3 separate regions of the Homo sapiens genome follow, and all the other regions are linked to region 2. A link means that fine-mapping ties the variant in region 2 to the plasma level of a protein whose gene starts in the linked region. Region 2 holds a variant in brackets. A gene starts in each other region. All regions are shown on their reverse strands.

Region 1 (2,500 bases), not on the chromosome of region 2:
CATTCAATCCTCACACAGGTGCTGTGGGTGCCAGCATTACCTTCTTGAGCCCTCTGTGTGCTGATATCGTCCTGGCTCACTCCGTCCCTGCGGATCTGTGATCTCTGGGGGGTGGGAGGAACCAAAAATGATAGCCTCCTCCACCCCATTCTCTCTCCTAGTTCCCTTCCTGCTTTATTGCTTCCTCAGCACTTGCAATCTGCACATACTAATAAATGAGATCTCTCTCATTTATTCTTTGCTGCCCCCAGCCCCCCATTGAGTTCCCCAGGCAGAGATGTGAGGCCTGTATCCCCACAGCCTAGGACAGTACCTGGTAAACAGTGGCGACCCAGACATAGTTGTGTGAAGAAATGCATCCCTCTGTCTTTTGCAGATGAGATTGCTGGGGTTCAGAGACGTCAAGCAGCTTGCCTGAGAGAAGCCACGCAGCTAATGAGCAGCAGAGCCCGATTCACACCCAGACATCTGGCCCCAGGGCATGTGTTTCTTGCCACTCACTGCCTCATGCCTTCTCTTTGTACTGCCATCGTTTGTCACCCAACTGCCTCTGCACCTCGGCCACGCCACCCTTGAGGATGGGGGCTGGTACCTCCTTTATCTTGTATCCACAGGACCCCACAGAGTGCCTTCCCCAGAGCGGTTTCTGCTAAATTCTGTTTAACAGAGTGTATTCATTCTGTTTGCTGAATGAATAAACAACCACATGAATGCATAAGTGTATTTCACAAACATTTGGTACTGATCAGGGAGACGGAATGCTCCGTTTAAATCCTGGGGTTCCGAAATGAGATGCTGTCTTTCAGGAGCAAGCATACTTTTGTAACAAGGCAAAAGTAAGGCACGATTCTTTGGCACATTTGTGATGTGTCTTTTGCCTCTTGATTCACAGATAAGGGTCCTTTTTTGGGGGTGAGCCCCATCTGCCCACCACACAACTCAGACACACACGGATAGGAAGACGCCTGCCTTGCCACGTTTTGGGGGAGCACTTACAGGAGAAGGCAGTGTCTAGGGATCGCCTCTCCTCAAGGCTGACTCCCACCCACACAGGCTGCCCCAGCCTCCCCATCCCAGGCACTTACACGGGATTTCTCGGCCAGCCTCGCAGGCAATGCCCGTTTCCAGATATTCTTGGCAGAGCCGGCGTGGAGGAGAAGTAGCAAGAGGCACAGAGCCCGGATGATCTGCCTCCTGCAGCTGCCCGGCCCCACGCCGGTTAAAGGCATTTCCTCCCTGGGCAGCGACCTTCCAGACGCACACAGAAGAGGGGCCCCCCTCGCTGCGTGGGCCTGTGAGTGGGGACAGGAGCGTGCACAGTCTGCTGGACTTTCTTAGTTCCACCCAGCAGGGTCCCTCGGATCATGTGTCCGCGTCCAGCACATGCCCCTTCCTCGATGGTGGCTGGCCTGCCCGGTTATTTTTAGCTTGCCCTATAACATCTGGCCCCAGACGCTCCAACCAGGGCGTCTGCAGCCCAGGCAGCTCAGTGGGCGGTGGCAGCAGGAGGAGGGGGCACCGGCTTGCTTGGAGACGTGGCCGGGAGTGGCCTGTCACTCTCCACTCTCCATAATGAGCACTTCCTTGCAGGCTGGGGCGGTCTCCTCCCAAGGAGGTGTGCTTGACACAGGGCTCGGGGCTGGACATGCAGGGGAGTGCAGCCGGATGGGTGGGGGCTCGGCTGCTACCTTGTTCACATTTCGAGCTGGGCTGACAAACTATCTGCCTATAAAAGCTTCTTTGAAAGAGGCTGCTGGACTGGCACTGGCCAAGGGTGCAGCCATGAAGAGACGACTTCCACCCTTGCACCCGCCGGGGTCCTCCTGCCTGATGTGGGCATGTGGGTAGTTCCTCATAGCGTGTGTTTCCTGTGAGATTTAAAAGAAATTGAGCACATAAAGCATTTCACACACATAAGTGTGCTGTCACTGTCAGCCGGTGTATCTGCACATGTGCATTTATGTGTATGCGTGTGTGCACGTGGGTGTGCATGTGCACGTGTGTGTTTTACAGGAATGTAGCACAGCGGGCTCAACATTTCACAAACTTCATATTCCCTTGTCTGTTCTCAGCACTTCCAAGACAGATACTGGTTTTTTGTTTTGTTTTGTTTTTCGAGACGGGTCTTGCTCTGTCACCCACGCTGGAGTGCAGTGGTGTGATCACAGATCACTACAACCTCTGCCTCCCGGGTTCAAGCGATTCTCCTGTCTCGGCCTTCCAAGTAGCTGGGATAACAGGCATGTGCCACCATGCCTGGCTAATTTTTGTATTTTTAGTGGAGACTGGGTTTCACCATGCTGGCCAGGCTGGTCTCAAACTCCTGACCTTAAGTGATCTGCCCGCCTCAGCCTCCCAAAGTGCTGGTATTACAGGTGTGTGAGCCACCACACCCGGCCCCAAAACAGACACTGTTTTGATGCCCGCTTTACAGATGAGGAAACAGAGGGGGCTGCCTGAGGTCATGCAACAGCAGCAGAGAGGAGGCTGGAACCCAGGT
Region 2 (2,847 bases):
TTTTTGTGTGATTGTACATTTGCAGTACAGGGAAAAAGTAAGAAATAAAAAGATCTGTCTTAAGGTACATTGGCATTTGTTTGCTGACTAAAATTTTACAGTAGGGTTTTTTTGTTGTTATTTTGAGATAGTTATATAGATTCACATGCAGTCGTAAAAAAAAAAAAGTAGTAATTCAGAGAGCTCTCGTGTACCCTTTACCTGGTTTCCTGCAAAGGCATTATCTTGCATAACTGTAGTACAGTACCACAACCAGGAAACTGACATCACACAATCCACCCACCCTATTCAGATTTCACCAGGTTTACAGGTACTCACTGGGGTGTGTGCATTTACTTCTATGCAGTTTTATCACATGTATGGACTTGTGTGGGCACCACCACAGGCAAGATACAGGACATTTCCACCACAGGGACCCCTCATGCCTCCCTTTTATCGTCACACACATCCCTTTCCCTCTCTTGTTCTCTAACTTCTGGTGACTACTGATCTATTCTCCATCTCTGCACCTTTGTCATTTCAACAATGTTATATACATGGAATTACACACTATGCATCTTTTTGAAATAGGCTTTTCCATTCAGCATAGTTCTTTGAAATCCAACCAAGTTGTTTTGTGTGTCAGTAGTTTATTTCTCTTTATTACTGAGTAGTAGTCTGTGGTGTGGATGTACCACAGTTTAGCCATTCACCTACTGAAGAACATCTGGGATGTTTCCACTTTGGGACTATTAAAAAATAAAGTTGCTGTGAACATTGGTATACAGGTTTTTATGTGAAATGATTTTCATTTCTCTCTAATAAATGTCCAGCATTGCTGGATTATACAGTTAAGTGCATGTTTAGTTTTGTAAGAAACGGCCAAACTTACATTAAAAAAAAATAAATAATAAACAGAAACTACCAAACTATTTTTTTTTTTTTTTTGAGACGGACTTTCGCTCTTGTCGCCCAGGCTGGAGTGCAATAGCACAACCTCGGCTCACTGCAACCTCCATCTCCCGGGTTCAAGCGATTCTCCTGCTTCAGCCTCCCGAGTAGCTGGGATTATAGGCACCTGCCGCGACGACTGACTAATTTTTATATTTTTAGTAGAGACAGGGTTTCACCATGTTAGTGAGGCTGGTCTTGAACTCATGACCTCGGGCTCAGGTGATCCGCCTGTCTCGGCCTCCCAAAGTGCTGGGATTACAGGCGTGAGCCACTGCACCTGACCTACCAAACTGTTTTCTAGAGCGGCTGTGCCATTTTATATTCCCACCAGCAATGTGTGAGTGATCCAGTTTCTCTGCATCCTCACCAGCAATTGGTGTTGTCACTAGTATTAGCCATTCATCTGGACATATAGTGACATCTCATTGTGGTTTTAAAAATTTGGATTTCCCCAGTGGCTAATGATGTTGAACATCTTTTAATGGACGTATTTACCATTTATACATCCTCTTTAATGGAATATCTATCCATGTCTTTTATTTCCTAATCCGATTTTTTTTTACAGTTGGGGTTTAAGAGTTTTCTGTGTAGTCTAGATACTAGTCCCTTGACAGATACGTGATTGGAGAATATTTTCTCCTAGTCTCTTCATCATCTTTGCAGGATCTTTTGCAGAGTAAAACTTTTCATTTTGATGAGGTCCAATTGATCAGTTTTTC[A/G]GTTTATCAGTTTTTCGTTTTATGAAACTCAGGCTTTTAATGTCAACTTAGGGTTTTGATTCCTGCCTGTTGTCATGCGCAGTGCCGGGTGGTGAGAAAGAGAGCCATGGAACAAGATAGACACTGGAGTGTGAATGATTCTTCCAGTTTCTGTCCGGTTGGGTTCTGCAGTATGTCTTGATGAGCTGCCTATTTGTTGGAGTCATGGACACAGAGTTGCCCTTGTCTTGCAAAGGCTGTAAGGTGATGATGGTATGAAAGGAAAAATATTTCCAGAATAATCCATGGTACCTCCCAACACAAGGTTTGTTTGCACTTGAGAGCTTCTGTCTGGAATACTCTTCCTTGCTTCCATCTCTCCGCCCCTTTGTCCAGTCACTTCCAGTCCATCCTCCAATGTCTGCCCATGTGGCCCTTCCCAGGAGCACTTCCCTGGCCACTGCCTCTCACCCTGGCCCAGGTGTGCCTCTGCTTCCATTCTTACACACTCTCCTCGATGTCAGAGCATTTGTAAAGTAAATACGTGAAAATGAAAGTAAATATCAAGTAATAAGACGATTTGATTAAGGTCTGTTTCCCCTCTAGACCAGGCTTCCCCAACCTTGGCACTACTGACATTTCGCTGGATAATTCTTTGTTGCAGGCGGCTGTCTTGTGCATTGTGGGTGCTGCTCAGCAGCACCCCTGGCCTCCCCCCACCTAGCAGATGCCACGGCACCACCCTCCCTGGCCCCCACCTACCAGATGCCATGGCACCACCCTCCCTGGCCCCCACCTAGTGGTGAAAACCAAAAAAAATGTCTTCAGATAGTGCCAAATGCTCCCTGAGCGACAGAGTCACCCAGGTGGAGAACCATGCCTTGAGACTCTGAGAGGTGGGAGGGCAGGTACCAAGCCCCTTTTCATGCCTATTCTCTCTCTAGCATCCCAGCGCCAGGCCTGGCACTGTGGTGCTTCATTAATATTTGTAGGATAAATTAAGGGATAAACCAACTTAATAGGGGACACTTGTTTACACGGCAGCCTTGGAAATGCTACCCTGACTTCAAAGGAACAAAGTGGGTTTTGTTGGGCACTTGAGACCCAGGAGAATCTAGAGTCTTCTGTATTCAGGTGGATATGGGTTTCCTTATGCAGTACCCAAGACAGCCCCCACACTGAAGAGTTATGTCAGTAGTGCCGAGATAAAGAAAGC
Region 3 (2,847 bases), not on the chromosome of region 2:
CTATTTAAAAACAATTAGGTTCTCTGCCAACACTTCTCTGTCCAAGAATTTTATCTGATTTTTAAAACCGTTTCATAAGAAAGGAATAGATGTGCTTTGAAAATTTAAAAATATCCCAGTTAGTTGGAGGTGAAATAGGTTGCCTGTTCTGTTCTGAAGTAGGAAGGGGACAGGAAGGGAAGGGGGAAAGGAAGAGAAGTGAATCAGAGGGGAGTGATGCAAAGAAGAGGAGAGTAAAGAGAAGGGGTGGAAAAAAGAGAGCTGGCATCCCTGTGCACCTGCTGTGTGAAATGTGGCACACAGCTTGGGGAAGGTGAATCCTTCACAACAGAAGTGCTGAGTAGAACTCTCAGTAACCATGGAAATGTTCTTCAGTCTGCACTGCCTGATAGGGAAGCCATTAGCCACGCATTTGAAAGGAAGCTGGTGAGGCTAAAGAAATAAGTTTTAATTTTATTTCATTGTAACTAATTTAAATGGAAGCTTGAAGAGCCTCCTATGGCCAGTGGCCTCCACCCTGGGGAAAGCAGCTGTGGACCTGTGAGTCCCACCCCAGCGCGCATGGTGCAAGCGGAGACCCTACCTTCCATGCTGAAGCTCCGCACAATGTTGGACGCTGGCGTAGTCGACTTATCGGACGTGTACCTGTTGTACAGGTCAATCATGTACTGCGGCGGCTCCACCCTGGTTTTGTCCTGCGAAGGGACCCCACTCAGGTTAAGGCTGCGCAGGAAATCCACCTTCACGTTCTCCAGAAACATCTTCAGGTTGAAGGTGTGCTCAGGCAGCCCACCTCCAGGCACCCCCAGTGGGCTGTGGGCGTTTCCCCCAGCAGACCCTCGTCCCCAGCTCTGCAGTGGCTTCCCCTGTAGGGAGCCAGCCAGCAGGGACAGCAGGGGCAGGGCCACCCACAGTGCCCCAGGACACATCTTAGGCCCGCGCAATCACCCAGAGAGGAGACTGCAGGCGGCCGTGCTGTGTTAGCGGGCACGGGGAGGAGCTGGGAAGGAGCGGGCCGGCATCTCCCTGCTGTTTGCTCTGAAGGAACCGTCCTGGCCAGCACCCACTCTCACCCGCTGCCGGGCTGGATTGTCCTCCACTTGTGCTTATCTGGTCCTCGATGCCGCGCTCCGACGTCTTATCTGAGGGAGCCTTCCGTTAATGAAGGCTCTATAAACATCTGACAAACACACAGGGCATGCGGGAAGGACACGGCCTACTGTAAAGAATCTGTGCTTCTCCAGGGGGTTATTGCCCCCTAATTAGGATACTTTCTCATTTCCTTGCCAGGGCTCTTCAGAAGAATCTCCAGGCAGGGTGACATATGCTCCATCTCCTGGGCCACAGGAGTGAAGAATCCAGGAAACAAGACCAAGTAGTCCTCCAAATATAGAAAGGACAGCACAAGATCACAGTGAACCGTGGGGGCTGGGGAGATGGGGAGAGTGTGGGGACCACATCAGGGCTCAGAAGAGGCCTGCTCCTTGCAGAATCGGAACCTGCCAGCAAGCCTCCCTGCTCTGTTGGTGGGATGCACTGCTGAGCATTAGAGATCACGAGTGAATATGGCTCCCGTGCAATTTAGTGCGGTGATGAGTCAAACTAGACACAGGCTGGGATCTCAACTCCCTCACCGATTCCCTGCAAATGTCACCTGGAACAAGTCACTGCAGCTCTTGGAGCCTCCCATTCAGAAGATAGTTATAGGGGTTAAGAGGATGCTGTGCCCCAGGCTGGCTTGGTGGCTGCATTCTGGATGCCCCCTCTCCAGCCCAGGCCTGATTGAGCTGGAGCTGGGGGAGGAAGCCCTGGGTTCCCCCAGCCTGCTCTGTCGGAGCTCCACAACACACTGCAGCCTGTGGGGAGCTCCCCACATCCCTGCATCCCAGCTGTGTCACTGGTCTGTTGTGGGGTGGTCTTAGCTCACACCAACCTGGCAGCCACCTGGCCCACACTCATCAGCAGGGAGAACCACGCAATCTGGTAGACAGGGGAGTAGGTGGGTTGTTCTGAGAGTGGTACATGCCAAGAAGATGATCCCCTGGCCTTTGGAGGCTGATAAGCTGTGGCCCAGGAAAGGGCCCCAGGGACTGCGTTAAGAGCAGTATGTCCACACTTAGACTCTGTCCATTTCCATCACGTGTGGCTTTGAGCAAAGCAAAGAAGGATCATGGTTAGAAACACTCTGGGGTATGCTGTGCCTGGTGGTTTACTCTGGGGAAGGTATTCTATGCTGGTGAGGCTGTCCGGGAGAGGCTGCAGAGAGCTGAGCAGGTTTAGGGGGGTGCAGGAGGGGCCACAGCATGCTGCGGTCAGAGATTGCAGAGGGGGATGGGTGAAATCAGGAGCCCCTGAATGGCTGGGCCTGAATAGAACTTGCTATCTCTGTCCTTTGATGACATGGGCCAGGGGAAGACGGGAAGCGTGCTGCTTCAGAAATGCTGCTTGGGAAGAGGACTGGAAGTGTGCTGGGCTTTGATCCAGCTCAGTGCAAGAATTCCATGGGGCAGAGAAAAGATGAATAAATGGGTGCCATGCCCAAGAAATGGAGCTGCAAATGCGGAGTGAGGTGTGGTCCGGGAGGAGTGAGGACAGGGCAGATGCCTGCAACATGGTCTGGCCAGGAGCTTTTCACACACGAGAGGCTGAGCAGAGGGATAGCCTAGTGGCCTGGATGTGCTCAGGGAGGAGCAAGGGGCTGCTACCTGACGTTATTTTTTAAATGTGACATTTTTTTCCCCTGTTATAACAGTAGTCTATAGTATAGAAAACTTGGGAAATGGAAAACATTAAAGAGAAAATAAATAACCTACAATTTAATCATCCAGTGATGCCCATGGTTAGCAT

Direction of the effects. Positions count from the first base shown, and alleles are read on the strand shown. Strength reflects both the effect of a copy and how common the allele is.
In carriers of allele A in region 2, the plasma level of the protein whose gene starts at base 1,323 in region 1 tends to be higher than with G alone (moderate association).
For the plasma level of the protein whose gene starts at base 1,144 in region 3, allele A in region 2 goes with a lower level than allele G (moderate association).

What was found. PIP is the chance, under the fine-mapping model, that this variant and not a neighbour inherited with it causes the effect. Protein levels are from antibody-based Olink assays in UK Biobank. Linkage for the fine-mapping came from a reference panel and not from the study's own genotypes, which makes the PIPs less certain.
Region 1: WFDC1 starts here. The variant in region 2 is fine-mapped to the plasma level of the WFDC1 protein (UK Biobank, PIP 0.95).
Region 3: GDF2 starts here. The variant in region 2 is fine-mapped to the plasma level of the GDF2 protein (UK Biobank, PIP 0.98).

The regions. Positions count from the first base shown.
Region 1 is chr16:84,293,701-84,296,200 of GRCh38, reverse strand. It overlaps WFDC1 (WAP four-disulfide core domain 1), which reads right to left and starts at 1,323. Exons shown (of 7, transcript NM_021197.4): 1 at 1,086-1,323. The coding sequence starts at 1,229. LOC124903734 reads right to left here. Exons shown (of 6, transcript XM_047435022.1): 6 at 1,363-1,868. The coding sequence ends at 1,363.
Region 2 is chr2:224,014,587-224,017,433 of GRCh38, reverse strand. The region is part of intron 1 of SERPINE2 (serpin family E member 2); the gene reads left to right. The region is part of intron 1 of LOC124907990 (a long non-coding RNA gene); the gene reads right to left. Among named protein-coding and RNA genes, the nearest start is that of SERPINE2, 23 kb to the left of the region's middle. RefSeq lists an enhancer at 1,847-2,346. The variant A/G (reference allele first, on the strand shown) is at 1,653.
Region 3 is chr10:47,320,751-47,323,597 of GRCh38, reverse strand. GDF2 (growth differentiation factor 2) reads right to left here and starts at 1,144. Exons shown (of 2, transcript NM_016204.4): 1 at 584-1,144. The coding sequence starts at 929.